Linked DNA regions of Homo sapiens: region 1 is linked to region 2. The links come from fine-mapping of genetic effects on gene expression. A gene starts in region 2. The other region holds a variant in brackets. All regions are shown on one strand. Distances are between the middles of the regions. Region 1 overlaps PTPN22 (protein tyrosine phosphatase non-receptor type 22). Region 2 holds the start of HIPK1 (homeodomain interacting protein kinase 1).

Region 1 (15,772 bases), 80 kb before region 2:
TTATATATGGGATTCCACAAAAAATCTGCTAGAGCTAATAAACAAATTCAAAGTTGCAGGATGTAAAATGAACACATAAAACGAGTTGCATTTCTATACATTAGCAATGAACAATCTGAAAAGAACATTAAGGAAACAGTTATATTTATAATGGCATCAAAAAGAATAAAATACTTAGGAATAGATTTAACCAAGGAGGCAAAAGACTTGTATACTGAAAACTACAAAGCTTTGCTGAAAGAAATTAAATAAGATATAAATAAATAGACATTCAAAGTGATCTACAAGTGCAATGCAATTCTTATCAAAAACCCAATGGCATTTTTACATAATTTGTTTAAAAAACAGACTAAAATTCATGGAATTTCAAGGGGCACTGAACAGTCAAAACAATCTTGAAAAAGAAGAGCAAAGTTGAATGACACACTACCTGATTTCAAAAATTGCAACAGAGCTACAGTAATTAAAACAGTGTGGTACTGACATAGTATAGACTAAAGACCAATGGAATAGAAGAGCTTTGAAAAAAACATTTACATATGGTGGGCAATTGATTTTTGACAAAAGTGCCAAGAAAATTCAATGGAGAAAGGAGAGTGTTTTCAATAAATGATTCTGGGAAAAACTGAATATACACATGCAAAAGAATGAAGTTGAGGCTGGGTGCGGTGGCTCATGCCTGTAATCCCAGCACTTTGGGAGGCTGAGGCGGGTGGATCACCTGAGGTCAGGAGTTTGAGACCAGCCTGACCAACATGGAGAAACCCCGTCTCTACTAAAAATACAAAATTAGCCAGGCATGGTGGCGCATGCCTGTAATCCCAGCTACTCAAGAGGCTGAGGCCGGAGAATCACTTGAACCAGGGAGGTGGAGGTTCCAGTGAGCCAAGATCACGCCATTGCACTCCACCCTGGGCAGCAAGAACGAAACTCCATCTCAAAGGAAAAAAAAAAAGAGAGAGAATGAAGTTGGACCCTTATCTTATGATACAGAAATTAACTCAAAAATTGATCAAATACCTAAACATAAGAAGTAAAATGTAAAACTCTTATAAGAAAATGGGCAAGCTTCATGACATTGGATTTGGCAACGATTTCTTGGATAGGACACCAAAGGCACAAACAACAAAAGAATAATAGGAAAATTGGACTTCATTGAGATTAAGACTTTTACACACCAAAGGACACAAAGGCAAAAAGGCAACCCATTGACTGAATGGAAGACGGTATTTGCAAATCACATATCTGATAAGGGATCAATATCCAGAATACATAGAGAACTCCTAAAACTCAACAACATGTAAACAACTCTTTTTTTTTTTTTTTTGGTGGAGGGGGACAGAGTCTTACTCTGTCACCCAGGCTAGAGTGCAGTGGTGCGATCTCGGCTCACTGCAGCCTCTGCCTCCTGGGGTCCAGCAATTCTCCTGCATTAGCCTCCCAAGTACCTGGGATTACAGGCACACGCCACCACACCCGGCTAATTTTTGTCTTTGTAGGAGAGACGGGATTTCACCATGTTGGCCAGGCTGATCTCAAACTCCTGACCTCAAGTGATCTGCCCGCCTCGGCCTCCCAAAGTGCTGGGATTACAGGCGTGAGCCACCGCATACAGCCTCAATTAAAAAATGAGCAAAATCTGGGCACCATGGCTCATGCTTTTAGTCTCAGCTACTGGGGAGTTTGAGATGGGAGGACTCCTTGAGGCCAGGAGTTCAAGACTAGCCTGGGCAACATAATGAGACCCTGTCTCTAAAAAAAAAATTAAAAAAAAATTAGCTTGGTGTGGTAGTGCATACCTATAGTTTCAGCTACTCAGGAGCTGAGGTGGGAGGATCACTTAAGGCCCAAGAGTTTGAGGCTTCAGTGAGCCATGATGGTGCCACTGGACTCCAGCCTGAATGACAGAGCAAGACCCTGACTAAAAAAAAAGTAGGGGTGGGTGGGAGAAGGCAAAGGACTTGAAGAGACATTTTTCCAAAGAGGATATACAAATGGCCAATAAGACCACAGAAAGGTGTCTAATCATTAGGAAAATATAAATCAAAATCACAATGAGATACCACTTCACACCTAATTAGGATGGCTGCCATCAAAAAAACAAAATAGGCCAGGCGTGGTGGCTCACGCCTGTAATCCCAGCACTTTGGGAGGCCGAGGCCGGCGGATCACGAAGTCAAGAGATTGAGACCATCCTGGCTAACATGGTGAAACCCCATCTCTACTAAAAATACAAAAATTATCTGGGCGTGGTGGCATGTGCCTGTAATCCCAGCTACTTGGGAGGCTGAGGCAGGAGAATCGCTTGAACCCGGGAGGCAGAGGTTGCATTGAGCCAAGATTGCGCCACTGCACTCCAGCCTGGCAACAGAGCGAGACTGTGCTCAAAAGACAAACAAATAAACAAAAAACAGAAAATAAAAAGTGTTGGCCAGGATGTAGAGAAATTGGAATCCTTGTGTACTGTTGGTGGGAATGTAAAATGGCACAGCTGCTATGGAAAAGAGTATGGCTGTTCTAAAAGAAAACTAAACGGCCGGGCGCGGTGGCTCACGCCTGTAATCCCAGCACTTTGGGAGGCCGAGGCGGGCGGATCACGAGGTCAGGAGATCGAGACCATCCCGGCTAAAACGGTGAAACCCCGTCTCTACTAAAACTACAAAAAATAGCCGGGCGTAGTGGCGGGCGCCTGTAGTCCTAGCTACTTGGGAGGCTGAGGCAGGAGAATGGCGTGAACCCGGGAGGCGGAGCTTGCAGTGAGCCGAGATCCCGCCACTGCACTCCAGCCTGGGCGACAGAGCGAGACTCCGTCTCAAAAAAAAAAAAAAAGAAAACTAAACATAGAATTACCACATGTAATTCCACTTCTGGGTTATACCCAAAGTAATTAAAAGCAGGGATACAAATATATATTTGTATACCCATGGTCATCACAGCATTACAGCAGCCAAAAAGTGGAAGGAACTCAAGTATCCATTGATGGATGAATGGATAAACAAAATGTGTGTGTGTGTGTGTGTGTGGTGTGTGTGTGTATAAACATATACAATGGAATATTATTCAGCCTTAATGAGTAAGAAAATTGTGACACGTTACAACATGGATGAACCTTGAGGACATTACGCTAAGTGAAATAAGCCAGACACAAAAGGACAAATACTATATGATTCCACCCATATCAGGTACCTACAGTAGTCAAATTCATAGAGACAGAAAGTAGAAGGATGGTTGCCAGGGGCCAGTGGGAGGGGAGAATAGGGAGTTATTGTTTAATGGATACAGAGGGTCTGTTTAGAATAATGAAAGTTCCAGAAATAGTGATAGTCACTCAACATTGTGAATATACTTAATGACACTACATTGTACACTTAAAAATGGCTAAAATAGTAAATTAAAATGATATATTATACCACAATAAAAATATTAATTGGAAAGTATCTCTTCCTTTTCTATTTCCTAGTATAGACTGTATAAAATTGGTGTTAATTCTTCCTTAACCATTTGATAGAATTCTCTAGTGAAACTATGTGGGCCTGAGATTTCTTTTTTGGGAGTTTTAAAATTACAAATTCAATTTTTCTAATCACTAAGGGGCTACTCAAATTATCTATGTCATGCTGAGTAAATTGTGGTAGATTGTGTTTGAGAAAATAATCCATTCTGGGCCGGGTGTGGTGACTCACGCCTGTAATCCTAGCACTTTGGGGGGCCAAGGCAGGAAAATCCCTTGAGCCCAGGAGTTCAAGACCAGCCTGGACAACATAGCTCCTATTTCATTCCTGATATTGGTAATTTTCATTTTCTCCCTTTTTATCTGTGTCAGTTTTTAAAAAGGTTTGTCAATTTCATTGATCTTGTTAAAGAACGATTTTTTTTTATCTTTTAAAAAAACCAGGCTGGATGCCTTGGCTCACGCCTGTAATCCCAGCACTTTGGGAGGCCGAGGCAAGCAGATAGTCAGGAGTTCAAGACCAGCCTGGCCAACATGGCAAAACCCCATCTCTACAAAAATAGAAAAATTAGCTGGCCATGGTGGCACATACCTGTAGTCCCAGCTATTTGGGAGGCTAAGGCAGGAGAATCGCTTGAACCTGGGAGGTGGAAGTTGCAGTGAGCCAAGATCATGCCACTGCACTCCAGCCTGGGTGATAGAGTGAAACTCTGTCTCAAAAAAACAAAAACAAACAAAAAACCAATTCTGATTTTTCTCTATTATTGTTTCCAATTTCATTGATTTCTGCTCTTTATTTCTTTTTCTATATTCTTGGAGTGACAGCTTAGATTATTGAGACCTATACTGTTTTCTAATGGATGCACTTAGTGCTATAAAGTTCCCTCTCAGTACTGCTATTGCTTCTGTCTCATAAATTTTGGTATGTTGTATTTTCATTTTTGTTTAATTCAGTGTGTTTCTTTATTTCCTTTGAGACTTTCTCTTTGACCCAATAGATTATTTAGAAAAGTGTGGTTTGATTTCCAAGGATTTGGATACTTTTCCGTTACCTTTCTGTTACTGATTTTTTTCTTTTTTTAATTAGTTAATTAATTTTTGAGACAGGGTCTTGCTCTGTCACCCAGGTTGGAGTGCAGTGGCACAATCACAGTTGACTGCAGCCTTGACCTCCCAGGCTCAAGCAATCCTCCCACCTCAGCCCCCTGAGTAGCTGGGACTACAGGCACATGCCATCACACCTGGCTGAGTTTTTAATTTTTGTAGAGACGGGGGTCCCCCTGTGTTACCCAGGATCATTTTGAACTCCTGGCCTCAAGGAATCCTCCCACCTTGGCCTCTCAAAGTGCTAGGATTACAGGCAAGAGCCACCATGCCCGGTCTCTGTTACTGATTTCTAATTTGATTCTATTGTGGTTAGAAAATATATTCTGTATAATTTTGGTTGTTTTGTTTTTGTTTTTGTTTTTTTTTTTTTTGAGACAGAGTCTCGCTTTGTTGGCCAGGCTGGAGTGCAGTGATGCTATCTCAGCTCACTGCAACCTCCGCCTACCAGGTTCGGGTTCAAGTGATTCTCCTTCCTCAGCCTCCCACGTAACTGGGATTACAGGTGCCCACCACCACACCTGGCTAATTTTTGTATATTTAGTAGAGATGGGGTTTGGCCAGGCTGACCAGGCTGGTCTCAAATTCCTGACCTCATGTGATCCGTCTGTCTTGGCCTCCCAAAGTGCTGGGATTACAGGTGTGAGCCACTGCTCCCAGGCTAATTTCAATTTAAAAAAATTTTTCAAATTTTTCAGATTTTTATGGCTCAGGATATACTCTATCTTGATATATATTTTCCATAAGCACTTTAAAAGAATGTGTATTCTTATTAGGTAGAGTGTTCTGTAAGTGTCAACTAGATTTTGTCAGTTAGTGGTGTTGAGTTCACCTATATCCTTGCTGGTTTTCTGTCTAGTTCTATCAAAATTGTTGAAAGAAGAATATTGAAGTCTCTGGCTATGACTGTGAATCATCTGTTTCTCTCCTTTAAGTTCTATGAGTTTTTCTTCACATATTTTGCAATTTCATTGTTTGGTCTATATACATTTAGGACTATTATGTCTTACTGGCAGATTGACCCTTTTATCATTATCTCCCTATCTCTGATAATTGTCTTTGCTCTGAAGTCTACTTTATCTGATATTAACATAGCCACTCCTGCTTTCCTTTGATTCATGTTTACTGATATAACTTTTTTCCATTCCTTTGTTTTTAGCCCTCTTATATATTTGAAGTGAGTTTCTCATAGACAACATATAGTTGAATTGTTTTTTAATTCTCTATGCCAGTCTGGCAATTCACTCTACCACCAGTAAATATTGGTGTATTTAGGCTTATATGTTTAATGTAATTATTAATATGGTCAAGTTTCATTCTGCTATTTTATTTTTTGTTTTCTCTTTATTCTTTCTGTTTCTCATTGCTCTTTTCTTTTTCCTGATGCTTTCTCTTTCCTGCATTTTTTAGAATTCCATTTTGATTTACCTATAGTGTGTTTTATTATATCTCTTTGTATAGCCTTTTTTTAGTCATGGCTCTAGATATAGATACAGATATATGGTATCACACTCTACTGGTGTTATCATTTTACCAGTTCAAGTGTGGAAGCCTTACCTTCCTTTATGTTTCTTACCATCCTCCTGTTATAATCATTTAAAATATTTCCTTTAATACATTTAGAACAACATCAGTCAGTGTTATATTTTTGCTTCAATTGTAAAACATAATTTATAAAACTCAAGAGGAGAAGGAAAGTTTATTATATTTACCCACTTTTGTTTATTATGTTCTTTCTTCCTTCTTTCATCATTCCCTTTCGGTTTAGAAAGTTTCCTTTGCCATTTTTTTAGGGTAGGTCTACTGGTAACAGATTATCTTAGTTTTTCTTCATCTGAGAATGTCTTGATTTCCCCTTCAGCCCTGAAGGATGTTTTCACTGGGTGTAAAACTCTGGATTGACAGTTATTTTCTTTCAGCACTTGGAAAATATTGTGCCACTTCCTTCTGACCTCTATGATTCCTAATGCAAAATCTGCTGTCATTCTAATTGTTTTCCTCCTACAGTTAAGGTGTCATCTTTTTCTGGCTGATTTCTAAAACTTTTTTGTCGTTTTTTGTTTTCAGAAATTTAATTATGATGTATCTTCCAGTACTTTTTCAGCCCTGCCCTTTCTATTTTCTTTCTGGATTTTGATGACCCAATGCTAGATTTTTTTTTTTTTTTTTTTTGGTCCCTTAGTTCCCTGCAGCTCTGTTTATTTTTTTTTCAGTCTATTTTATCACTGTTGCTCAGACTGGGCAATTTCTATTGTTCTACTTTTCAATTCATTAATTCTTTTTTCCGTACCCTCTATTCTGCTGTTGAACCCATCTATTTTGCTTCAGTTACTGTATTTTTAAGTTCTAAAATTTCCATTTGGTTCTCTTTATATCTTGTTTCTTTGCTGAGACTCTTTTTTTTTTTTTTTTGATGAGGCTTTGTATTTTTTAATTTGATTTAAGCATGTTTTTACCTTTTTTATTTTTTTATATTTTCATTCTTTTTATTGTTTTGTTGTTGTTGTTTTAACTATGTTTTTAATTGCTCATTGAAGCATTTTTATCTTGGCTGCTTTAAAATCCTTGTCAGATAATTCTGACATCTGTATCATCTCGGTGTTGTCACCTATTGTCCTTATTTAAATTCAGTTTGAGATCTTCCTGGTTCTTGGTATAATAAGTGATTTTCAACTGAAATCTGGGTATTTTCACATTGTTATGAGACTCTGAATCTTAGTTAAGCCTTCTCTTTTTGCTGGGGCTTTTTTTTTTTTTTAACAGAGTGTTGCTCTGTCACCTAGGCTGGAGTGCAGTGGTGCAATCTCAGATCACTGCAACCTCCGCCTCCTGGGTTCAAATGATTCTCATGCCTCAGCCTCCTGAGTAGCTGGGATTACAGGTGCGCATCACCATGCCCAGTTAATTTTTGTATTTTTAGTAGAGATGGGGTTTCACCATGTTGGCCAGGCTGGTCTTGAACTCCTGATCCCAGGTCAAGACCAGCCTGGTCAATATGGCAAAACCCCACCTTGGCCTCCCAAAGTGCTGGGATTACAGGAGTGAACCACTGCACCCGGCCATTTGGAAAAATTTTTTTGTAGAGACAATTGCTATGTTGCTGAGGCTGCTCTCAAACTCCTAGGCTTGAACAATCCTTCCACCTTGGCCTTCCAAAGTGCTGGGATTACAGGCATGAACCACCTTGCCCAGCCAAGAGATTATTTTTAAATTTTTATTTCTCTTTGAGACAGGGTCTCACTTTGTTGCCCAGGCTGGAGTGCTGTGGTGCCATTTCAGCTCACTGCGACCTCCACCTCCCAGGTTCAAGCAATCCTCCTGCCTCAGCCTCTGGAGTAGCTGGGACTACAGGTATGCCCCACCACTCCTGGCTAAATTTTTTTTTTTTTGGAGATGGGGTTCACCATGTTGGCCAGGCTGGTCTTGAACTCCTGACCTCAGGTGATCTGCCTGCCTCGAGCTCCCAAAATGCTGGGATTACAGGTGTGAGCCACCGGACTTAGTGAGATTAATTTTTTAAGTTAAATTACATCAAATTAATTTGTCATTTTCCACAGGAAATTTTCAGTGCAGCCCTATGCACACCTGACGCTCTCAATTTAGTTGTGACAATAGATAAATCCTGCAACAAATCTGACATCCCTTGACCAAAAGCAAGTATGAAAATTTTTTTGACATAATATCTAGTTTAAATTTTACCTCTGTTCCAGAATGTTTATCTCTGATAACATCCATCTGTCTCTTAAATAGTTCTAATACAGCATTGTAGACCAGTTCATATTGTTCCTGAAGAGCATCACAACCCAGAACAAATGAAAACAAAAACAAAAAAATTGGTGAACGACAGGACCAGATTTTAGGAATATGAACACCAATCAAATCCTAATATAGCAGACCCAAAAGGACGATCGGCATGTTATTAAACTTACTAACAATGCCTTATGCTTACGTAGTTCACTTCAGATTTCAAAGCACTTTTATGCTGCTGAAAATAGCTAAATATTTGATACACCTCTAACTAATGTACAGGAATCTTATGACTTGTTTCTTTTATGTTCTAAACCTAGTTTCTTATCTTTCTCTCCACCATCATTTCTCTAATTCTGTTTCCCTTGCTCACATTAAAAAAAAAAATATTTCATTCTAGATGGATTTTTTGTAAGCAACCTTCATCTTTTCTGGAAAAAGAGATAGTGGTTGGTATATAGATAGATAACTTCAATGTCTATGCTTTAATTTGGTCCTCACAATTGCTCTATAAAGTAGATAAGCTATTTATACCTATTTACAAACAGTTTATCCCAGGTCATTCAGAAGGAATTTCCAGGGCTTGGCTTAGAAACTTAATTTCCACACTCTTAGTTCAGTGCATTTAGATAAAGTTGCTAAAATTTTGTCCTAATAAAGATACCAAAAAAAAGTAAACCACTAAATAAGGTTTTGAAATTTGTGGTTACAAAAGGATTTCACCATAGAGAAATGAGACCTCTATTATTACAAGGTTTATGAGTTATTACTACTCTGTTTTTGCCTGTACTTTCTCAAGCACTTAATTTTGAACCTACTTTTTATCTGAAAGGGCCTAATCAGGGTTTTACCTGAAAGGGCCTATTCAGGGTTTTCCCTGACACTTTACACATTTCTGTACAAATAAAGAACAATTTTTTTTCAAAGATAATTTTAGCAGGAAACAATGCAGAGTCTATATCATTCAACACAGCCATTAGTATGCTCTTTATTTATTTATTTATTT[ATT/A]TTTTTTTTTGAGACACGGTCTCACCGTGTTGCCCAGGCTGGAGTGCAGTGATGCAATCTCGGCTTACTGCAGCCTCGACCTCCCAGGCTCAAGTGATGCTCCCACCTCAGTCTCCCAAGTAAGTCGGGACTGCAGGCACCTGCCACTACACCCTGATAATTTTTGTATTTTTTGTAGAGACAGGGTCTCACTATGTTGCCCAGGCTGGTTTTGAACTCCTGAGCTCAAGTGATCCACCTGCCTCAGCCTCCCAAAGTGCGGAGATTATAGGGGTGAGCCACCACATCTGGCTAATTTCTTTAAGAAAGAAAAATCAGGGCTGGGCATGGTGGCTCACGCCTGTAATCCCAGCACTTTGGGAGGCCGAGGCAGGCAGATCACGAAATCAGGAGTTCAAGACCAGCCTGGCCAGCATGGTGAAACCCCATCTCCACTAAAAATACAAAAAAAATTAGCTGGGCATGGTGATGCGTGCCTGGAGTCCCACCTACTCGGGAGGCTGAGGCAGAAGACTTGCTTGAACCCGGCAGGCAGAAGTTGCAGTGAGCCAAGATCGCACCATTGCACTCCAGCCTGAGTGACAGTGTGAAACTCCATCTCAAAAGAAGGAAGGAAGGAAGGAAGGAAGGAAGGAAGGAAGGAAGGAAGGAAGGAAGGAAGGAAGGAAGGAAGGAAGGAAAGAAAGGAAGAAAAAGAAAAATCAGACAGGAAGCTCTCATCTGGTTACAGTGCCATTTCCTGGTTACAGTAGTGTCAGAAAAAACAGCTACAACTGTCAAGTTCAGTTAGTTGTTTGATAATGCCAAAATGTGAAGGCTTTTTCAGCGTCTTCCAACTCTTAAAAGTAGGCCTGAAATGAAATTCGTTTTTGAAATGGGGTATAGTTTTATTAAATTAGTATTGCTATTTATATAACTAGGTTCCATACTTCTGGAATCTTTATGCATTTACATGGATCAGCCTTCTTTCAAGTCTGACAGCATTAAACCAGCTAATGCTTTCATTTCACATAAGCTTTCTCCCTCACAGGTTGAATATAGAAAACACCTACACTCAGCACACATGAAAGTTATTTTTTTCCACCAGCTATTAGTGGAAAATCTGTGCAGGCCAAACAGTTTTATATTATAATAGCTCTTTATTTTATCCCTTTAATTCACAACTTCTAGACTAAATATCTGAATTGCCATTGTCAGTTGTTTTATCTCTAAAACTATTTGCATCTTCATTTGTAAGTGTTTTAAACACTTTAAGGTCTTGCTATTTAAGTAGTTAAAAGTAGTTCTAACAAATTACACAAAAGTGCCTGTTAATAAACATCAATACACGTTTCATGAATGAATGGGTCAATTCTAAATTCTATATTAAAAATGGAGACCACTTAGAAAACTAAAACTATTGGGTAAAACTATTCGTGTAGAAATATGGGTGAAATTAATATTGTAGGCAGTGAGAGATTTGGGCTAGGAGAAGGGAAGAGCATTCCTAATGGAGTGAACAAGTATGGGTATTCTGGGGTAGGTTAAAAGATTGTGATACATAAATAGAGTGTGATTGTAATTTTTTTTTTTTTTGAGACAGAGTCTCACTCTGTTACCCAGGCTGGAGTGCAGTCGTGTGATCTCGGCCCTCTGCAACCTCCACCTCGCAGGCTCAAGCAATTCTCCCGCCTCAGCCTCCCAAGTAGCTGGGATTAGCAGGTGCCTGCCACCATATCCAGCTAATTTTTTTATTTTTAGTAGAGACAGGGTTTCAGCATATTGGTCAGGCTGGTCTCAAACTCCTGACCTCAGGTGATCCACCCACCTTGGCCTCCCAAAGTGCTGGGATTACAGGTGTCAGCCACCGCGCCCGGCCCAATTATGTTTTTTCTTTTTTAAGTATGCATGCAATAAGAATCAGGAGAAACTATAGAAAAATAGTAATAGTGGCTATCTGTAGGTAATAGGAATATGGTTTTTATTTTTATTTTTCAGTGTTTCCTAAAACGAGCACATAGACTGAATTCTCCATATTCTGTTACCACATCCTGGGTAGAAATTACAAATCCCTGATTTTCTATGCTTTCAGAGATGAATTTTATCACTACAAAATTTCAAATTAACATGACCTAGCTATTTCAAGTCCACAAGTCAGTTTGTTGAATACTTTTACAACATCCTTTGTAAGGAAGTAAGTAATATTACATTGGTATCTTAATATTTTCTGAACAGACAGTAAAATAAGGAATGAAAGGAATTTGACCCAGGACAAGGGATACAGGAAAAATATTGGGATATTCAGAGTTAGAGAAAATGGCAATGGACTCTAGAGCACGTAATGGTAAATTGGTGTTATATCTGAGCAGTCAGCTGTTTTTGGATGCCTCACCATTAAACAGATGGAGCAAGACTCAGACACATGTTCTGATCCATTCACTATAGTTCATACCTGCGTTTGAACTAATGAAGGCCTCTGTGTCCGCATTTCCCGGATCAAACTGAAAACACTGAAGTTCTCAGGAATTATCTATCAAATTAAAGGGGAAAATATTCCTTTCAATATTTTGTTAATAAATTATTGCTACTTTTTCATAGTCTTGTACTTCCATGGCATCTGCTCTTCTAACATGGGGTAATATCAGAAAAATGATGCATTTTTAAAACAAATGAGGTTTCTTATCACTTGCAACATGATTTAGAGCCTGGTATTTTCCCTAGAAAAGACTAAAGAAACTCTTCAGAATGATTTCACACGGTATAACCAAATGTCTAAAACTATAGATATAACGAGGGACAGGATTCAGTAGATGCACAAGTATGAGAGTTGCATAAAATAAAAGAGGTTGGTAGGTAGGTCTAAAGGCCATATTTTAAACTTCCCATTTCCTATTAGACATTAAAAAATGATTTATAGATTGGAACGCAAAGTATGATTGCAGTAAGTTGAGTCCATCTATTAAAGCATCTTTGGATAAAGGAAGGGTAACTATATAATTTAGGACAGTGGTCCTCAAACTTCATCATGCATCACAATCACCTGGACAGCTTGCTGGGCCCCCATCTCTAGAGACATGATTCAATTCAATGGGGTGGGGCCCAGTAATTTGCCTTCACCTTAGGTTAGGTGCACCTAACCCCCTTGGGGTTCAACCCCTACACTATTGGAATCTCCAAAGATTGGAAAACAAACATTAAAGGACATATAAATTACAGACTTCCTGGGAGTCTGACAAAGTAGAAATAGAAATATTTGACCTATTTTCAGTATTTCACAAGAACTAACAGAAATCATATGTCTACTAAAACAGCTGCACAAGCTAAGTGAAATATCTAGTTTCCTTGGGTTTTGATTTTTGCTTTTTGTTTTGTTTTGTTTTTGAAACGGACTTTCACTCTTGCTGCCCAGGCTGGAGTGCAACAGCGCGATCTCGGCTCACTGCAGCCTCTGTCTCCCGGGTTCAAGCGATTCTCCTGCCTCAGCCTCCTGAGTAGCTGGGATAACAGGCATGTGCCACCAGGCCCGGCTAATTTTGTATTTTTAGTTGAGACAGGGTTTCTCCATGTTGGTCAGGCTGGTCTTGAACTCCCGACCTCAGGTGATCTGCCCACCTCAGCCTCCCAAAGTGCTGAGATTACAGGCATGAGCCACTGCAACCAGCCAAGTTTGCTTGGTTTTGATTAGAATTGTCAACTCAGAATGGCAACAGTAGAACAGTGATATCCAGTAAAATATAATGTGAGCCACATATGTGATTTTAAATTTTCTTTTTCTTTCTTTTTTTTTTTTTTTTTTGAGGACTTTCACTTTTGTTGCCCAAGCTGGAGTACAATGGCATGATCTTGGCTCACTGCAACCTCCACCTCCCAGGTTCAAGTGATTCTCCTGTCTCAGCCTCCCGAGTAGCTGGTATTACAGGCATGCGCCACCACACCTGGCTAATTTTGTATTTTTAGTAGAGACAGGGTTTCACCATGTTGGTCAGGCTGGTCTCGAACTCCCAACTTTAGGTGATCAGCCTGCCTCGGCCTCCCAAAGTGCTGGGATTACCGTGTGAGCCACCATGCCCGGCCAAAAATTTCTTTCTTTTCCTTTATGTATTTTATTTTTATTTTTATTTTTTTGAGACGGAGTCTCTCTCTGTCACCCAGGCTGGAGTACAGTGGCTCAATCTCAGCTCACTGCAACCTCCGCCTCCCGGGTTCAAGCAATTCTCCTGCCTCAGCCTCCTGAGTAGCTGGGATTACAGGCACATGCCACCATGCCTGGCTAATTTTTTTTTGCTTTTTTTTTTTTTTTTTTTTTTTTGAGACAGAGTCTCGCTCTGTCACCTAAGCTGGAGTGCAGTGGCGCGATCTTGGCTCACTGCAAGCTCCACCTCCTCAGTTCAAGCCATTCTCCCGCCTCAGCCTCCTGAGTAGTGGGGACTACAGGCGTCCACCACCATGCCCGGCTAATTTTTTTGTATTTTTAGTAGAGACAGGGTTTCACCATGTTAGCCAAGATGGTCTCGATCTCCTGACCTCGTGATCCACCTCCCTCGGCCTCCCAAAGTGCTGGGATTACAGGCGTGAGCCACTGTGCCCGGCCTAAATTTTCAAATAGACACATTCAAAACCGAAAAGAGGTGAAATTAATTTTAATAACATATCTTAGCCCAATATATATTGCATTTCTAACAAGTTCTCAGGTGATGCTGATGCTTCTTGTCTGGGGACCACCCTTTAAGACCCACCTACCTGGGAACTAATTTAATCGTCTGACAGAGTGGGTCTACAAGTACATTTTCTAGAAAAGATGAATCATGAAGATAGATGTTTTGAAAAACCAAACAATTACTAAGTATGAAAGCAGTAGACTAAGCAAATGGGAAGTGCCTGCTGAGAGAAACTCACCCCATCTTTTAGCAACATCCATGTATAATCAATAGCACAAATAACACCAGTCCTTCCACAGCCAGCACTGAAATGAAAGATCACAGTAGCATGTATGCATGTATACCTAGAGAGAATGGACCATTGACAGTAGCTGGAAAATTTCACCAGCAGATTTGAGGAAGAAGATACCTGGGGACAATTAAACTTTCCAAACCCCACCATTTCCCAGAGCCCATTTGTCATGCAAGAGGTCCTAGGCAACATCTCAGAGCAAGAGTCTCTAGAACTGTACTACTCACAAGTAACTTATCAGAAAAACATGAATTTAATGCTTAGGTTGAATTTATTATCGTTTGTTTTTGCTATTAACCTTTTCCCCTTTCAATTACACAGTCCTGGCCAGACTCTGACATTTGGTTCATTTTGGGTAGAAGGTTTATATATAGTGTCATACCTGCAGTGAATGCATATGGGAACACTGTCATCCTCTTGGTAACAACGTACATCCCAGATGAGCTCAAGAATAGGGTCTATAGATGAAGGTACATCATGGTCTGGCCAATTCTTGTAATGAAACTGGTAGATAGTTCGAGTTTCCTATAAAAAGTAGCCAGATGGGAGGGGAAGAGGGGCAAGGGCTGAAAAACCACCTATTGGGTATTATGCTCACTACCTGGGTGATGGGATTATTCAGTGGCATGCATGCAACAAACCTGCACATTTACGCCCTTGTGTCTTATATTCATAAGATTAAAGTTGAGGCTGGGTGTGGTGGCTTACGCCTGTAATCCTAGCACTTTGGGAGGCCGAAGCAGGCAGATTACTTGAGGTCAGGAGTTCAAGACCAACCTGGCCAACATGGGGAAACCCTGTCTCTACTAAAAATACAAAAGTTAGCCAGGCAAGGTGGTGAGCACCTGTAGTCCCAGCTACTGGGGAGGCCACGGCACAAGAGTTGCTTGGACCCAGGAGGCTCAGGTTGCAGTAAGCCAAGATTGCACCACTGCACACTCCACACTCCAGACTGGGTGACAGAGCGAGACTCTGTCTCAAAAAAAAAAAAAAAAAAAAAAAAGTTGAAATTATTTTAAAAATAGCCAGGATAATAAGACAACTTGTGGTTAGAACTCCACCTCATTATACCAAGACAACAGTCCGGCATACTAAGTTGTATCTATATCCTTTTTGAAATTTATTCCGGTTTCTTCTCTATAGATCTCAGGTGACCAGATGCTTTCTGAAAACCATTAAAAGTGATTTCAGGTCACTTACTATTGGTTTGTCCCCATCTGCCCCATTCACAAGAGGAAATAGCTAGATATGAAAATAGTTCAAACCAGTGTTTCCCAACTGGTATGCCTCCAATGTGTCACAATCATGCTGATATATTAAATCTTTTTGCCTTAGAGAAGCTGGGCAGGGCCTAGGGCAGCCTAAGCTCTCAAACTGGTCCCCAGTCTCTATGCACTGTTCAGCTTCTGTTCACCCTACAAATATTATCATTTTATATGTGTGCCATGGTATAGAATAGATTGAAGACATATTATAACAATGGTCTCTTCTTTTTTTCTTCTTCTTTGAGACACAGTCTTGCTCTGTCACCCA
Region 2 (15,772 bases):
TGTGCCACTGCACTCCAGCCTGGGTGACAGAGAGAGACTCTGTCTCCAAAAATAAAAATAAAGAAAAAAAGAAATATATACACATAAACAAAGAAGTGTGTGTCAGAAGGAGAAGAAGAGGAGATGAGGTCACAGAGAGGGAGGCAGGTGTTGGATCAGAAGTGACTTAATAGTTTAAAGTAAGAAGTTTAAATTTGATTGTAAGTGTATTTATAAGCTATTGGAGTGCTTTAAATTAGGGGAGTGATATGATCTGTTAAATATTTTTGAAAACAACAGAGAATGGGGCAAAAATGAAAACAGGATACCATTTAGGATGCTCTTACAGCAATAAGAGATATTGGTGAGCTGAGCTGGGGAAAGGTGATTTACATTCTATTTGATTTTTTTTTTTTAAGTAGAGATGTGGTCTCACTATGTTGCCCAGGCTGGTCTTGAACTCCTGGCCTCATGATCCTCTCGCCTGGGCCTCCCAAAGTCCTGGGATTACAGGCATGAGTCACCACACCTGGCCGGATTTACACTGTGTCTAGACAGGAATCTTTTAGAGTACCTTTTTATTACAAGCAGCTACAGCGAAAAAGAATATCTTTTCCTCCACCAAAGCTTTCACAAAGAAAAAGCGCATCTGTAACCATATGTATACACACAAATAGTATATAAATACACATATTTGTGGGGAATGAGAAAACAGGAAGAAATGAGTAAGCCAGTTTATAAGTAAATAATTGGAATATTTTATGAATTTAACATTATTTCCTATAATAGGCATGTTTTATAACTATCTTCTTAAAAGAAATAGCATGTTTTACTTGCTTTGGAGTCAACACAAGTCTTAGGGTTAGAGTTTACATTTCCTGAGACACTAAGAATCTTCAATAAAAAAACTTCATTAATCAGAGAGTATTTACTTTTTATTTATTTATATTTATTTATTTATTTTTTGAGACGGAGTCTCTCTCACTCTGTCGCCCAGGCTGGAGTACAGTGGCATGACCTCAGCTCACTGCAACATCTGCCTCTCACGTTCAAGTGATTCTCCTGCCTTAGCCTCCCGAGCAGCTGGGACTACAGGCATGAACCACCATGCTCAGCAAATTTTTGTATTTTTAGTAGACATGGGGTTTCACCACGTTGGCCAGGGTGGTCTCAAACTCCTGAACTTAAGTGATCCGCCTGCCTCAGCCTCCCAAAGTGCTGGGATTACAGGCGTGAACCACCGCACCCAATGCTTTTTAATTTTAATTTTTATTTATTATTATTATTTTTTGAGATGGAGTTTCACTCTTATTGCCCAGGCTGGAGAGCAATGGCACGATCTCAGCTCACCGCAACCTCCGTCTCCTGGGTCAAGCGATTCTCCTGCCTCAGCCTCCCGAGCAGCTGGGATTACAGGCATGCGCCACCATGCCTGGCTAATTTTGTATTTTTAGTAGAGACGGGGTTTCTCCACGTTGGTCAGGCTGGTCTCGAACTCCCGACCTCAAGTGATCTGCCTGCCTCGGCTTCCCAAAGTGCTGGGATTATAGGTGTGAGCAATCGCGCCCCGCCCTTACGTTTTATTTTTAAATTATTAAGATTATTATAGGGCCGGGCATGGTGGCTCATGCCTGTAACCCCAGCACTTTGGGAGGCTGAGGCAAGTGAATCATGAGGTCAGGAGTTCAAGACCAGCTTGGCCAAGATGGTGAAACCCCGTCTCTACTAAACATACAAAAATTAGCCGGGCTACTCGGAAGCTACTCAGAAGCTACTCGGAAGCTACTCAGGAGGCTGAGGCAGGAGAATCGCTTGAACCCGGGGGGTGGAGATTGTGGTGAGCCGAGATCATGCCACTGCACTCCAGCCTGGGCAACAGAGTGAGACTCTGTCTCAAAAAAAAAAAGACCTCAGGCCTCCCAAAGTGCTGGGATTACAGGCTTGAGCCACCGCGCCCAGCCAGGGTATCTTTTGGAAGTAACACTGAAGACATTTTCTGATGGATGGAATGAGGGAGGTAAGGAAAAGGTATTATCATCTTCATTTTCAGTATGAGGAAAGTGATTCTCGTTAAGATGCCCACCATCATACCCTAATCCCTACCAGAGTCAGGATTCCTATGGATGTCAGGCTCTGAAGCTCCTATTTTTCTATACTGGATATCCTAGGAGCAGTGAGGTTGGTCAGGTAAAAGCCTATTTCACATCAGCGAATTTACCCTCTAGGGTTTGCATAGAGCACATTCCCCTATCCTACCCTGAGTGAAAAGAACCACCTGTTGACTGCTTACAGGTTTCATCAAAGTGAGTTTACAAAAGTAATAATAAAAAAATTAAATTCACAGTCAATGACGATAATTGTTATTTTGAGGTTTCTTCTTTTTTAAATAGAGATGAGGTCTTGTTATGATGCTCAGGCTGGTCTTCAACTCCTGTCTTCAAGCAATCCTCCTACCTCGGCCTCCCAGTCCTGAAGTTCTGGAATTACAGGCGTGAACAATATGAAGTCTCCTTCCCTCCCTGACATCCTTCCTCCCTCCCTTCTTCTCTCTCTCTCTCTTTTTTTTTTTGTTTGTTTTGAGACAGGATCTGGCTCTGTCACTCAGGCTGGAGTACAGTGGCACAAGTCTCAGTCTCTTGTGCTGAAGCAATCCTCCAACCTCAGCCTCCCTCTCAAGTAGCTGGGACCGCAGGTGCACACCACCACACCTGGCTAATTTTTAATTTTTTCTTGTAAAGATGAGGTCTCACTATGTTGCCCACACTGGTCCTTCAGCTCCTGGACTCAAGCGATCCTCCTGCCTCAGCCTCCGAAAATGCTGGGATTACAAGTAGGAGCCATTGTACCCAGTCCTTTTGAAGTTTCTTAACCCCTATTCTATAGTTAACTGATCCTGATGCTTTGAGCACTGCGAATAAGCGCTCAGTAATTTACTCATGAAAACAGTTATAGCACCAACCATGTGTAAGGAATTGTGCTGGGCAGGGGACACTTCATTGGGGCTTTTTGATTTCTGAGTTTGTGGGAAGTACAAAATGACTTAGCACAAATAATATTCAATTATTAAATTTCAAGTTCCTGTTCTGCTCCATTGCCCTTTTCATGTGGGTCTCTGTGTGCCTTCCCAAACCATTTATTTTGGTTTTAGATATTGCTTGAAATTGATGATAGGGAAAGACATATGGAATGCAGATGCTAAATTCTGTGTAACAGTTGGTCAAAGAAAAGGTGAGAATCTTAGAGTGGGGAGGATGATTTTTTAAAAAAAGAAAAGGTTAGAAACTACATAACAGAGGAAGCATAATAATGAGAAATGCTGACCCAAGGAAAGGGAGAAAAAGCACTATTCCTTGCTTTTGCTACATAAACAGTTGGTATATGAGAAAAGTGAGAAAGAGTAAGATCATTATGTGTAGAAAAGGGTGACATTAGAAATGATTATGGAGGAAGGAGGGTCTGAGGAGTCATAAACATGGGTTATATAAGGAGTCAAGGCATTTGTTCTTTCCCCACAATAGTCTCTGGGTTGACCCTTGAAAATTAAGGGTAATTGTGCCTTGTCTCTAAATCCTGAAAACCTCCCTCCCTGCCACCCCACTTTTTTTTTTTTTTTGAGACAGGGTCTTGCTTTGTTGCCCAGGCTGGAGTGTAGTGACAAGATCATAGCTCACTGCAGCCTCAACTTCTAGTGGTCAAGCAATCCTCCCACCTTACCCTCCTGAATAGCTGGGACTACAGGTGTGTGCCACCACGCCTGGCTAATTAAAAAAAGAAAGGTTTATCCTCCAAGACATCTGAATAAAATTGTTATAGAGACGATGACTCACTATGTTGCTTCCTTTTTTTTATTTAGGTAAAATCGACATATTACTAAACATTTTAAAGTGGACAGTTAGTGCATTTAGTGCATTCACAATGCTGTGCAGCCATCAGCATGCTCTAGTTTCACCTCCCCTTTCATTTATTAGGAAAGCTTGTATTCAAATCTTCTTTAATCCCATAATATGCCCATTCATCCAAACTCCTGTTCCATTATTCCATCATTTCTGCTAGGACCCAGTCCCCAAAATGTCCATTATTCTAACCCCTGTCACTCTCATGCTAGATATTGTCCTTCATGAAACCAGATGAGGGGCCAGAACAACTTTTCCTGGTTTATACCTGTGAGAAGAGAAGTGATAGAGAATGTAGTCAAAATGATTCATTTCATAACTTCTCAGATGTAGCTGATGTGGACCCAAGCAGATTCCTTGGATATTGAGAGCTGAATATGGGTATTGACCAGAATAGATTCTACCATTCAGCTGGACCAGGCCATTCTTCCCAGATTGTCAGTCACCACTCATACTATGAGTAATCCTATATAGGAACCACACAGCTTCTGCCCAAACTATGCCACTAAAACCGCTCTCTCGAAGATCAAATACTATCTCTCTCTCTCTCTCTCTCTCTCTCTCTCCCTCTCTCAGAGATGGGAGTAGTGGCTCTCACCAATATCAGTAATATCTATCTATCTATCTATCTATCTATCTATCTATCTATCTATCTATCCATCCATCCATCCATCCATGTATCTAATCTATCTACCTTAGAGATGGGGGTCTCAATATGTTGCCCAGGCTGGATTTGAACTCCTGGGCTCAAGCAATCCTCCTGCCTCAGCCTCCTGAGAAGCTGGGACTATAAGCACATGCCATCATGGACCAGCTAGCAGTGACCTTTCCATAAGCCCCTGAGGTATGGGGATTGTTTGCTACACAAGTTAGCTAAACCTAACTATTCATTTGAATAGGCAACGGACAGTGTCTGCCAAATTTCCCTATGCAAGCTTTCTCTGCTAAGGATACTCAAAAGGAGTCTTAAGAGAAAAATCTTGGTAATACCTAAGGCTTGCAACCTGAGGAAAGGGATGAGCAGGGAGGCTGAAGGGCTGATATTCACATACAAGCATTCAGTAATAAATCACTGTGGGCCTAATGCTCAGATCTTTTTTTTTTGGTCGGGGGGACAGAGTCTTGCTCTGTTGCCCAGGCTGGAGTGCAGTGGCATGATCTTGGCTCACTGAAACCTCCGCCTCCCGGGTTCAAGCAATTCTCTGCCTCAGCCTCCCAAGTAGCTGGGATTACAGGCACCTGCCACCGCGCCTGGCTAATTTTTGTATTTTTAGTAGAGATGGGGTTTCACCATCTTGGCCAGGCTGGTCTTGAGCTCCTGACCTTGCAATCTACCCACCTTGGCCTCCCAAAGTGCTGGGATTACAGGCGTGAGCCACCACGCCCAGCCATGAAGAACATTTTATTACCCCTTACCAGAAAAAGTCCTGTATTCTTCAAAAATATTAAAGACAAAGAAAAGCTGAGGAACTGTGCCAGATTAAAGAACACTAAAGAGACATGACAATTAAATGTAATATATGATCCTAAACTGGATCTTGTGCTGGAAAATAAAAAAAATGCTAAGAATGATGTTATTTGATCAACTGACAACATTTGGAACATGGATGGTAAAGTATTACAGCAATGTTAAATTTCCTGGAGTTGTTAATTGTATGTATTTTGTTTACATAAGAGAATGTACTTATTAGGATATTCAAGTATTATGTGGTAAAGGAGGATGATGCATGCGATTTACTTTTAACTGCTTGGAAAAAAAAATATGTACGTGGGCTGGGCACGGTGGCTCACACCTATAATCTTAGCACTTTGGGAGGCTGAGGTGGGTGGATTGCCTGAGTTCAGGAGTTCAAGACCAGCCTGGGTAACACGGTGAAACCCCGTCTCTACTAAAATACAAAAAAATTAGTCAGGTGTGACAGCGGGCACCTGTAATCCCAGCTACTCGGGAGGCTGAGACAGGAGAATCGCTTAAACCCAGGAGGTGGAGGTTGCAGTGAGCCGAGATCATGCCACTGCACTCCAGCCTAGGTGACAGAGTGAGACTCTGTCTAAAAAAAAAAAAAAAAAAAAAAAAAAAAAAGGCATGTATGTGTGTAATATAACTCTATCTATCTATAACTGCAAATGATAAAGCAAAAGGGGCAAGATGTTAATAATCTGGGTCCTCTTTTTGTCACTCTTGCAACATATCTGTATGTTTAACATTATTTCCAAATAAAAAGTATTCTGGGGTCTGGATTTTTAAAAAATCATTGAGGTTCTCCTCCTGTTGGCTCAAGGGACTTTTCTGCTTTTTATCGTTTACTGCAGACCTTCACTCTAATCTGGTTTTCCCAGTTTCACAACCTGTTGGCTTCTATTTAAATTCTCTTTTTTTTCCTAGCCCCTAGGATTCACTATTTGTTTGAATAGTTTGCCTAGCTTTTTGGTTCAGCTTCTCTCAAGACACAGCCTTCTCATCAGCTTCTCCTATTTGGCCTTAAGCACTGCCGCTCTTGGGCAAATGACTTCTTGCCTGCAACACTGAATCTAGGCTGTAGGCCCTAGAAGGATGTCATACCCTGAATGAAACTTGAATGCTTCCGATTGCTAACTGCTCCACCTCCCTCTCCAGTTGCTCTGACTTGGTTTAGGAGGATGTATTTCACATATCTGCCCCTTCTCGCCTTCTTTCCTGTGTAATCAAACCCTCATCATAGTTTTCTGATTAGGATCCCTTTCTCCAGTCTTTACCCACTCCAGCTAGCCCTCTTCCTTCACCATCACTAGTTCTCTCTCACATTACCTGTCTGAATAAACTTCTTTTTTGAGACAGAGTCTGGCTCTGTTTGCCCAGCCTAGACTGCAGTGGCACGATCTCGGCTCACTGCAACCTCTGCCTCCCGGATTCAAGCGATTCTCCTGCCTCAGCCTCCCGAGTAGCTGGGATTACAAGCATATGCCACCATATCTGGCTAATTTTTGTATTTGTAGTAGAGATGGGGTTTCACTGTGTTGGCCAGGCTGGTCTTGAACTCCTGACCTCCAGTGATCTGCCACCTTGGCTTCCCAAAGTGCTGGGATTACAGGCATGAGCCACTGTGCCTGGCTACCTGTGCGAATAAACTTCTAACAGCTCTACATTGCCTTTCAAAATCTGACTCAATTTACCTTACTACTTCCAAATCGTGCAACTTCTCTGCTTAACTGTAAGCTCCTTCAGGGCACAGACCATGCCTTTTCTTCTGTGTATCCTTAATTTCTTTTTTTTTTATTTCTTTCTTTCTTTCTTTTTTTTTTTTTTGAGACAGAGTCTCACTGTCGCCCAGGCTGGAGTGCAATGGTGCAATCTCGGCTCATGGTAGCCTTCTTCTCCTGGGTTCCAGCGGTTCTTCTGCTTAAGCCTCCAGGGTAGCTGGGATTACAGGCATGCGCCACTACACTTGGCTAATGTTTGTATTTTTAGTAGAGACGGGGTTTCACCATGTTGGCCAGGCTGGTCTCGAACTCCTGACCTCAGGTGATTCACCTGCCTCAGCCTCCCGAAGTGCTGGGATTACAGGCATGAGCCACCACACCCAGCCCCTTAATTTCTTATATAGTGCCTAGCACACAGAAGATGCTCTATAAATAGTTACTGAATGGACAAATGACTAAACTTTGAAACTTCTTTGACCTTACTATGCTCAAATATCACTTCTGATGTTCTTCTCCGACTCTCTCACTTATCTTATATATGTCTGCACACGTTTTTTCCTCATTAGACTGTAAGGTCCCTGAGGGAAAAGACCATGCTTTATTCACCTGTCTCATTCATACCTGACCCAGTGTCTAGAAGAGTGTATAGCACAGAGCAGGCACACAAGCAGTTTGCTGGATGAATGAGTGAATGATACTAAAGAGGAGAAAATACAGACTTTAAGAAGCTCTCCGTATAGTGAGAAAGACTGAGGACCTAAGAGCAATGAAAATAGAAGTTAACAAGTATAAATAAAGAAGGTACAGGTTAATTTAAGTAATCAGATGATGATGCAGAATTCAAATAAAATAGGAGTCAATCAGCAAAGGTTCCCGAAAGGGTGAATTCTGAGAGATATTTGAAAAGAGGAAAGGGACATAACTTGAGAGAGCAGGAGTTTAGGAACATGTCAGAGAGTTAGGTTGAACCAAGGCATGATAAACATGTTTGAAGCTTACATTCTGAGCAGGATCTGTTCTACCCAGACCACAGGTTTCTGCCTTTTTTTCTGGCTCATCAAGCAGGCATGTTTACCCACTCTTTTTATCTTCATGTTTCCCAGGTCAGCCCAATGTGAGGACTTTAAGTAGTAGAAGGAAGTTTCTGTGAAAATATGCAAACAAAACTGCCTTGTGGGATCGAACATTTTTGGTAACCCTAGTTCTCTAGGGAAATAAACTTCCCTGTTCCAGATAAAATGGAACTGCTCCCCGTGTTGTTAAGCCAGAGAGAAAGCCAAATGACTTCCCTTAAAAGGTACTTCAGCGCATTTTACACAAATCATAGTTTTCTGTGTGTGTTATGGGGATCCAAGGAAATCAAAGATGTTAATGAGTGAGATTTGAGAAACAAAACTTGATAGTAGAATTTTGTCTTAGCCACAACTGCCCTTCTCCTCACAGAGTATATGCAAATACCGATGGTGACGGACAGTCACTTTCTAGAGCTCAGATCACTGCTGCCTCCAGCACTTGTGGGATGGAAAAAATGAAGAAATTACAGTTGCCCTAAAAATGTCCCCCACTTCAGGAACCTGAATATTTTACACAGCAGGAGATACATCGGAAGTCCTACAGAATCTCTTGACTTTGGGAGATGCAACTGCTTTTCTATTAGGATAACCTAATTTTCTGTGTCCATTTTCTCAGAATGTTGTGCCCAACGCGTTCTGTTTCCTAAATACCCAGCCTTCCTTCTGGTAGAGGCAAGAAAATTATGCTAGCATTCGCTCACTGCATGTTTTGAGCGTTTGAGTTCAGAGTACAGCTATTCTCTCTCCTCGTAATGTAAACACAGGTTCCCACGGCGGCAATGGGAGACTCCCCTAAGGGGCTCTTGACGTACAGGGAGACTTCCAGATATGGTACACAGATGTCACATTGCTAGAACGTCTCTAGACGGCAACGAAACATTAAAGCCTAACCTGAGGTAATCCCTCACCGGCAGTGAAGCTCCTCTGCTAGGCACTGTCGTCCCGTACACTGCCCAAGCTCTGGGGGTGTCACACTAAACTGTGGTGATGTCACACTAGCTGGGATGACATTTTACAGTTGGATCCCGTACCACCGCCAGGCACCTTTAAATCACCGCAGAGTCTGCAGTGCGGAGGGGGCGGGAAGTCCAGGCCCCGCACTCGATCCACGCTGGCTCCCTACGGAGGCCCACCTACTCGAGGCCCACCGACTCCTACTGCAATCAGTACTATGCGATCGTCCTAGAGAGTCCATTCAGCTGCACTTCCGCCTCAGTAGGTGTCATGGCGCGGGGCGGGTGAATAGTTCCGGCGAGGCGGGGCCGGCCGGGTTGAGGGACGGCCGCTCGGCATTCCGTTCGTCGGGTCTGGCGACAACGGCGGCTGCGGAGCAAGGGGCCCGGCGGTAGCCCCGGACGGCAGCAGGAGGCCGAGGCGGGAGCGCGCGGGGCTGAGGCGGCGGCGGCGGCGGCGGGAAGGGGCTGGGTGGTGGAGCGGGAGGGAGGCTGAGGAGGCTCCCCCTGCGGGACGGGCGCGGGGACGGCTCCGGGGGGCGGGGGCCGGGGCCCGGGCCGGCTCGCGCGGGGGGTATGATGACCCGGCTGCGGGGCCCCAGATCTCGTCTCCTCCGCCGCCTCCTCACGGCAGCCCCAGCTCGCGGCTGAGAACCAGACACACCGGCGGTGAGTGGGGACGGGCAGGAGGGGTCCTCGGCGGGGAGCGACTTCCCCTCAGCTCCCTGAGGCGGGGCCGGGCCGGCCGCCGGCTCTCCTGGAGCGCCCAGCCTGCCGGGGGCGCCTTCCTCAAAGGGCCCCTGCCTGGGACCGGGCGCCGCGTCTTGCGGCCCGGCCGCTCACTGCCGCTGAGGGGATTGCCTTCCCAGGAAGGTGGGGAGGCTCCGGGCTGGTTTTCGGGGCAACTCCCCCTGCCTCCTGCCACTTCTCGCCTGGGCGTGTTGTCCTTAAGTGACAGGGGACCGCCTTGCGTCTCCTCACTCGGCCGGTTTTTTCCCCGGCTGTCGTGGCAGGTTCCCAGTGTGTGGCTTGTGCGTGTGTACTTCACAGCTCCGCTTATCACCATGGTTTTGGGTTATTTGTGCTGTTTGGGACCAGGAAGCCGTGCCTGGAGAGGACGACAGTGGGGTGGGTGTGGAAGCTTTTCTGTCGTCTCCGCTGATGTTCTGTAGTCGTTAGGCTTGTAATTCGTAATGACGGTGGAGACTACGTGAGACCAGCCCACCTAATGTATATCTGTACAAGGGAGATCTAGAGGTCTGGCCCAAAGGGAAACTTTTGCTGCCACCACTTTCAAAGCTTTCGTTAAAAAAACAAAAGGGAGGGGGAAGGTGGAGAAACAACCAAAATTCTGGTAAGGCCCACACTGTTCACAGGTCTGTGGGGAAGAGTCCCCTTTTTGTGCTTAGCAACCAAGACGTGGAGTTCCGTCTCCAGGAGCGTTGGTCTAACCTCCAGTTTGTTGTGGTGACGAGCTGTGAGCAATGGCCTGTGTTTATGCTGGGCGAGCTTTCTTTCCTACTTGGGGAGGGGGGTTCAGGATGGGAGGATGCGGGTAGGGAAGAGGGGGGGAAAACCCCCAAGCTCCAGTAAGTCTTTTCTTTACTTAATCACTGATTCTGTTGTAGGTAGACTCATTTAGAGGCAGTCCTAGATGCTCTTTCTTGTCTATTAGTGACACTTTGGGAATTCTCAGTAATTGCATCAACATAATACTTTCAGCTATAGACTCTCTGTCCCAATCTGTCCTTTATCTTGTTTCTTAGTAACTGGTGAAAACAGCAGTGTGGCTTCCCGCTCTTGATGAAATAGGGTTAAATTAAGTGGCTGATGCCCTCAGCAAACCTACAATTTTCCTTTTGTTTGTGTAAAGCTATTTTTGATCTCTGGTCTGTGGGTTTTTTTTTTTTTTTTGTAAGATTATAGAGAATGCAAACTATTACTAGCTTTTTTCATATGGAAGCCTAAAGCTTTCTATAAAACATTTTAAAATCTAACAAATCATTTGACCTAATTTTCATTATTCAGCTGGTGATTTTGGATCTTTACATGTAATTATCTCAGGGTTCTGTGTTATAATACTGTTATGATGAAGGGTGGCATTGACTTTAAGATACTGTTCCTGGCTTGAAAGATATTTTAGTAAAGTACTTGCGGTTGGAACTGGAGGCAGCCAAGCCAGTAAAGTATCTTAGAATAAAATGGTGAATGAGATCTTATAAATATACTGGCTCTGGTTGGCAAGTAGAACTTTTGCTGGTGATACCTTCATGAATAGTTTATCTCTCGACACTGTAGTTTTGTGGTTTTTTGAGCAAGTTCGTTGGTAACTTGAGACTTCAAACCAAACCAGAACTTCCTTCTAAAAGAAAAAAAAAGAAGAGATAATCTCAAAGTTCACAATTCTTTGGAAAATAAACTTCTTTCATTCTGTGCTTTTGTTTTTATAAGCACAGCTCCATCAATGATTTGTTGGTACAAATCAGTGAGTCATACCGGCCTTGTAAAGTTCTTACACTTGGAACTTGTGCAGCTTGTTAGTTATATATTGTAACTGGTCTTGTAATTTGAAGTAATTTTGCAAACATGAGCTGCTTGATCTGCCACCTGCATGAGTGTATAACAGCAGTCTGTATTTTTTAGGTCTTTTTAAAAAAAATTTACTATTATTCCTCCCGTTATCTTCCCTTCCTCTCCCTTTGTGCCATTCTGAACACAAGTCATCAAGATTATTTTCCTTTAAGTACCACTTCAACAATCACTGGTTTGTCTTTTGGTTCCTTTTGTTTTTGTTCCTGATCTTCCCTTTAGTTGTTGGAACCCAGCTCCTAAATGCCTAATATATTCCTGTAGTGCATAATTTGGCACTTGAAAAATTTACATCCTGTTTTCATATTTTTCTTTCTTTTTCATGTGTTATATCATTTCAGCAACATTTTAAGTTTTTTGAAGGTAAGGAAACTTACATTTCTTTTAGATTCTTTAAGGGTACCTGGTACAGTGCTTTCCCAGAGTGCTTAAGGAAAAAGAATGAGAAGACCTTTGCCAGCATTGCTACTCATTAGCGCTGGGTAAAACTCGTTTGGCCTTTTTGGATCTGTTTTTTTTTTTTTTTTTTTTTATTTGAGACAAGATCTCGCCCTGTCGCCCAGGTCGGAGTGCCGTGGTGGGTTCAGGCTGGAGTGCAGTGGTGGGTTCAAGTGATTCTCATACCTCTGCCTCCTAAGTAGCTAGGACTACAGGCACTACAGGCACGCACCACCATGCCTGGCTAATATTTGTATTTTTAGTAGAGATAGGGTTTTGCCATGTTGGCCAGGCTGGTCTCAGACTCCTGACCTCAAGTGATCCACCTGCCTCGGCCTCCCAAAGTGCTGAGATTACAGGCGTGAGCCACCATGCCTGGCCTGGATCGCCTTTTTCTCATCTCGGAATTAGGGGGTTTTAGAATCTTTAAGGTCCCTTTTATCTGTAAGAGTTCCAGTACTTTTTTGCTAGTGTCTTCTGCTCCAGTTAAATATATCTCCTTACTCTACACGGTTTTTTATTTTTCCACATCCTTTGGCATACTAGCATAGCAAAAGTCATCTCATTCTTCTGAAAGAGCCTCCTCCATCTTCCATTCTCCAAACTGCTGTTGCCTTACTTAAGTCCCGTTTTCCTTCAGCCTTTGCTGGCATATTGTTTATGTTTCATATTGATCTCTGCTTTGTTAATTTTAACTTTTTCTTATCCTGGAAACTCCTCAAGGTATAGTTTTCTTAATTCTAAGCTTTATAGACCTATAGACTGTTATGTGCAGGTACTAAAATGTAGTACCTTTTTACTAAACACAAAGCACTTACTTTTCTTTTGTTCTGTTGCCGTAGTCATTCCAAATAAATCTAAGTGAACTATTGATTTTGATACAAAGCAACAGCCTCTGCCACACTGAAGAAGTGAGCTTTAAGCAGAGACTAGAAGGGTAAGTAAAAGTTAGGAAAAGAAAAGCCTAAGGGGGAAAATGAAGTTCAGAGAGGAAACATGTTGAAGGAACTAGGGCCAGAGAAGGCAAGGTCTATTGTGGGAACCCAGAGAGACTTGGTAGTATTGGAAGAGAAAGTGCCTGGGGAAAAGCGCAGATGAAACAAGGCTGTGCAAGTAATCGTGGTCCAGATCTTGCAAGGCCTGGTAATCCAAATTAGGAATTTTGGTGTTTGTCCTAAGGTTTTAAGTGGGGGATAGGTACACTTTTTTTTTTTCAGATGTGCATTTTTAAAAGCTTCAGTTGAGAGGTGAATAATGAATTGGGAGAGGGGAGCTTAGAAAAGGGGCTTGAGGCCAGCATCGTGGCTCACACCTGTAATCCCAGCACTTTTGGAGGCTGAGGTAGGTGGATCACTTTAGGAGTCTGAGACCAGCCTGAGCAACATGGTGAAACCCTGTCTCTACAAAAAATACAAAAAAATTAGCTGGGCGTGGTGGCATGTACTGGTAGTCCCAGTTACTCGGGAGGCTGAGGTAGGAGGGTGGATTGAGCCCTGGAGGTCCAGGCTGCAGTGAACGAACCATGATCGTGTACTGCACTCCGGTCTGGGTGACAGAGTCTCAAATAAAGGGGGGAAGTTGAGAGTACAATTTGGAGGAAACCAGTTAAGCTGTTTAAGTATGGGATTGTGCAGTAGGGGTGGAGAAAACTTAGGAGAGTAGAGAGAGATTTAGGTGTTCTGTTGGGAAGAATTTTCTTCCCAAACTTGTCTCACTTTGTTTTTACAGAAGATGTACTCTTATCATCTGTAAAAAATATGTATCAGAGTATGTGATAGACAATATGTATACCTGTGTTCATGTCATCTGAGGATAAGTGCTGGAGCAAGAAATCAATATATAGTACAGTTTTTAGGTCATTTGGCTAACCAGCTGTTAAATTGTATGAAAGAGGCAAAGATAACATTGAGCAAAAGCAACAGGAATTTATTACTGGTGTGTCAGGAAAAAGGTTACTGAGGGGTAAGGACAAATCAATGGAAAATGATTACCTGGGTTGTCTTATCCAACTGTTCCATTCAGGGTTATAATATTTGGATCCTTTTAATAAGATTATTTGCCTATAGTGCTTATAGTGTGGAGCACCCAGTAAATAATGTTAAATGGATGTGACCATGCCAGGGAGTGGGAAAGTTGTTAATCTGTTTTTGAAAGCCTTGGATTCTAGCTATTATCTTTTAGCAATAAGTACAAGTACCAATGATCTTTTGCCCATCATTGCTACTTTGGTATTAATGAACTGGGCAAATTTGTCATTATATTGAGATGGTTAAGTCCTTGGAAAGTCAGATTTGAAATGTAAAGACTTCATTTATTGCTGGAGTCAAGAGGCGCAGCATTTTCAGGAAGTCAAAAATAACTTTTTATGCCAGGTACGGTGGCTCATGCCTGTAATCTCAATATCGTGGGAGGCCAAGGCAGGAGGAGGATTGCTTTAGAGCAGGAGTTTGACACCAGCCTGGGTGACATAGTAAGACCTCATCTCTGAAAAAAAAAAAAAAAAAAAAAAAAAATTAGCCAACTGTGGCATGTGCCTGTAGAAATTAGCCAAGCGTCCTGGTGTGTGCCTGTAGTCCTAGCTACTTGGATGGCTGAAGCAGAGGATTGCTTGAGCCCAGGATTTCGAGGATACAGTGAGCTGTGATCACACCACTGCATTTCAGCCTCACTGACAGTGGTGAGAACCTGTCTCAAAAAAAAAAAAAAAAAAAGAATCAGCTGTTTTTTTTTTTTAAACCTTTATTTTAGGTTCAGGGGTACATGTGCTGGTTTGTTATATAGGTAATCTATATGTCACAGGGGTTTGGTGTACAGATATTTTGTCGTCCAGGTAATAAGCATAGTGCCTGACATTTATTTTTTCTGATCCTCTCCCTTCTCCCACCCTCCACCCTGAAGTAGGCCCCAGTGTCTGTGGTTGGCCTCTTTGTGTCCATGTGTTCTCGTTCTTTAGCTCCCACTTTTAAGTGAGAACATGCAGTACTTGGTTTTCTGTTCTGTGTTTGTTTAGGATAGTGGCCCTCCAGCTTCATCCATGTTGCCTGTTGCTGCAAAGGACATGGTCTTGTTCTTTTTTATGGCTGCATAGTATTCCATGGTGTATATGTATCACATTTTCTTTAGTCTACCATTGATGGGCATTTAGGTTGAATTTCATGTCTTTCCTATTGTGAATAGTGCTGCAGTGAACATATGCTTGTGTCTTTGTGGTAGAATGATTTATATTCCTTTGGGTATTTACCCAGTGATGGGATTGCTGGATCTAATGGTAATTCTGTTTTAAATTCTTTGAGGAATTGCCACATTGCTTTTCACAATGGGTGAACTAATTTATACTCCCATCAGCAGTATAAGTGTTCCCTTTTCTTCACAACCTTGCCAGCATCTGTTATTTTTTGACTTCTTAATAATATTCATTCTGACTGGTGTGAGATGGTATCTCATTTTAGTTTTGATTTGCATTTCTCTAATGATTAGTGATGTTGAGCAATTTTTCATATGCTTGTTGACTGCAAGTGTGTCAAAAATAGCTTTTTAATTTATTGAGTTGCTATTCACATTGAATTGAAAATATCTGTAATTTGCCTCACAGATTCTGATATATAGTAAGTTTTCCACAGATGTTAATTCTGTTTTTGTTGTTGTTGTTGTTTGAAAGCTCTCCACC

What was found. PIP is the estimated chance that this variant, and not a neighbour inherited with it, causes the effect.
Region 1: its variant is the best candidate, but not a certain one, in a credible set for the expression of HIPK1 in whole blood (INTERVAL, PIP 0.89).

Annotation. Positions count from the first base shown.
Region 1 is chr1:113,840,286-113,856,057 of GRCh38, forward strand. PTPN22 (protein tyrosine phosphatase non-receptor type 22) reads right to left here. Exons shown (of 21, transcript NM_015967.8): 8 at 14,622-14,764; 9 at 14,186-14,252; 10 at 11,742-11,819; 11 at 8,255-8,341. All of the region lies in intron 3 of AP4B1-AS1 (AP4B1 antisense RNA 1), which reads left to right. Among named protein-coding and RNA genes, the nearest start is that of PTPN22, 24 kb to the right of the region's middle. The variant ATT/A (reference allele first, on the strand shown) is at 9,309.
Region 2 is chr1:113,920,193-113,935,964 of GRCh38, forward strand. It overlaps HIPK1 (homeodomain interacting protein kinase 1), which reads left to right and starts at 9,132. Exons shown (of 16, transcript NM_198268.3): 1 at 9,132-9,340. It overlaps HIPK1-AS1 (HIPK1 antisense RNA 1), which reads right to left and starts at 9,333. Exons shown (of 3, transcript NR_110726.1): 1 at 9,170-9,333; 2 at 8,052-8,196; 3 at 3,809-4,140. RefSeq lists an enhancer at 9,043-9,362 and silencers at 9,483-9,532, 9,553-9,862.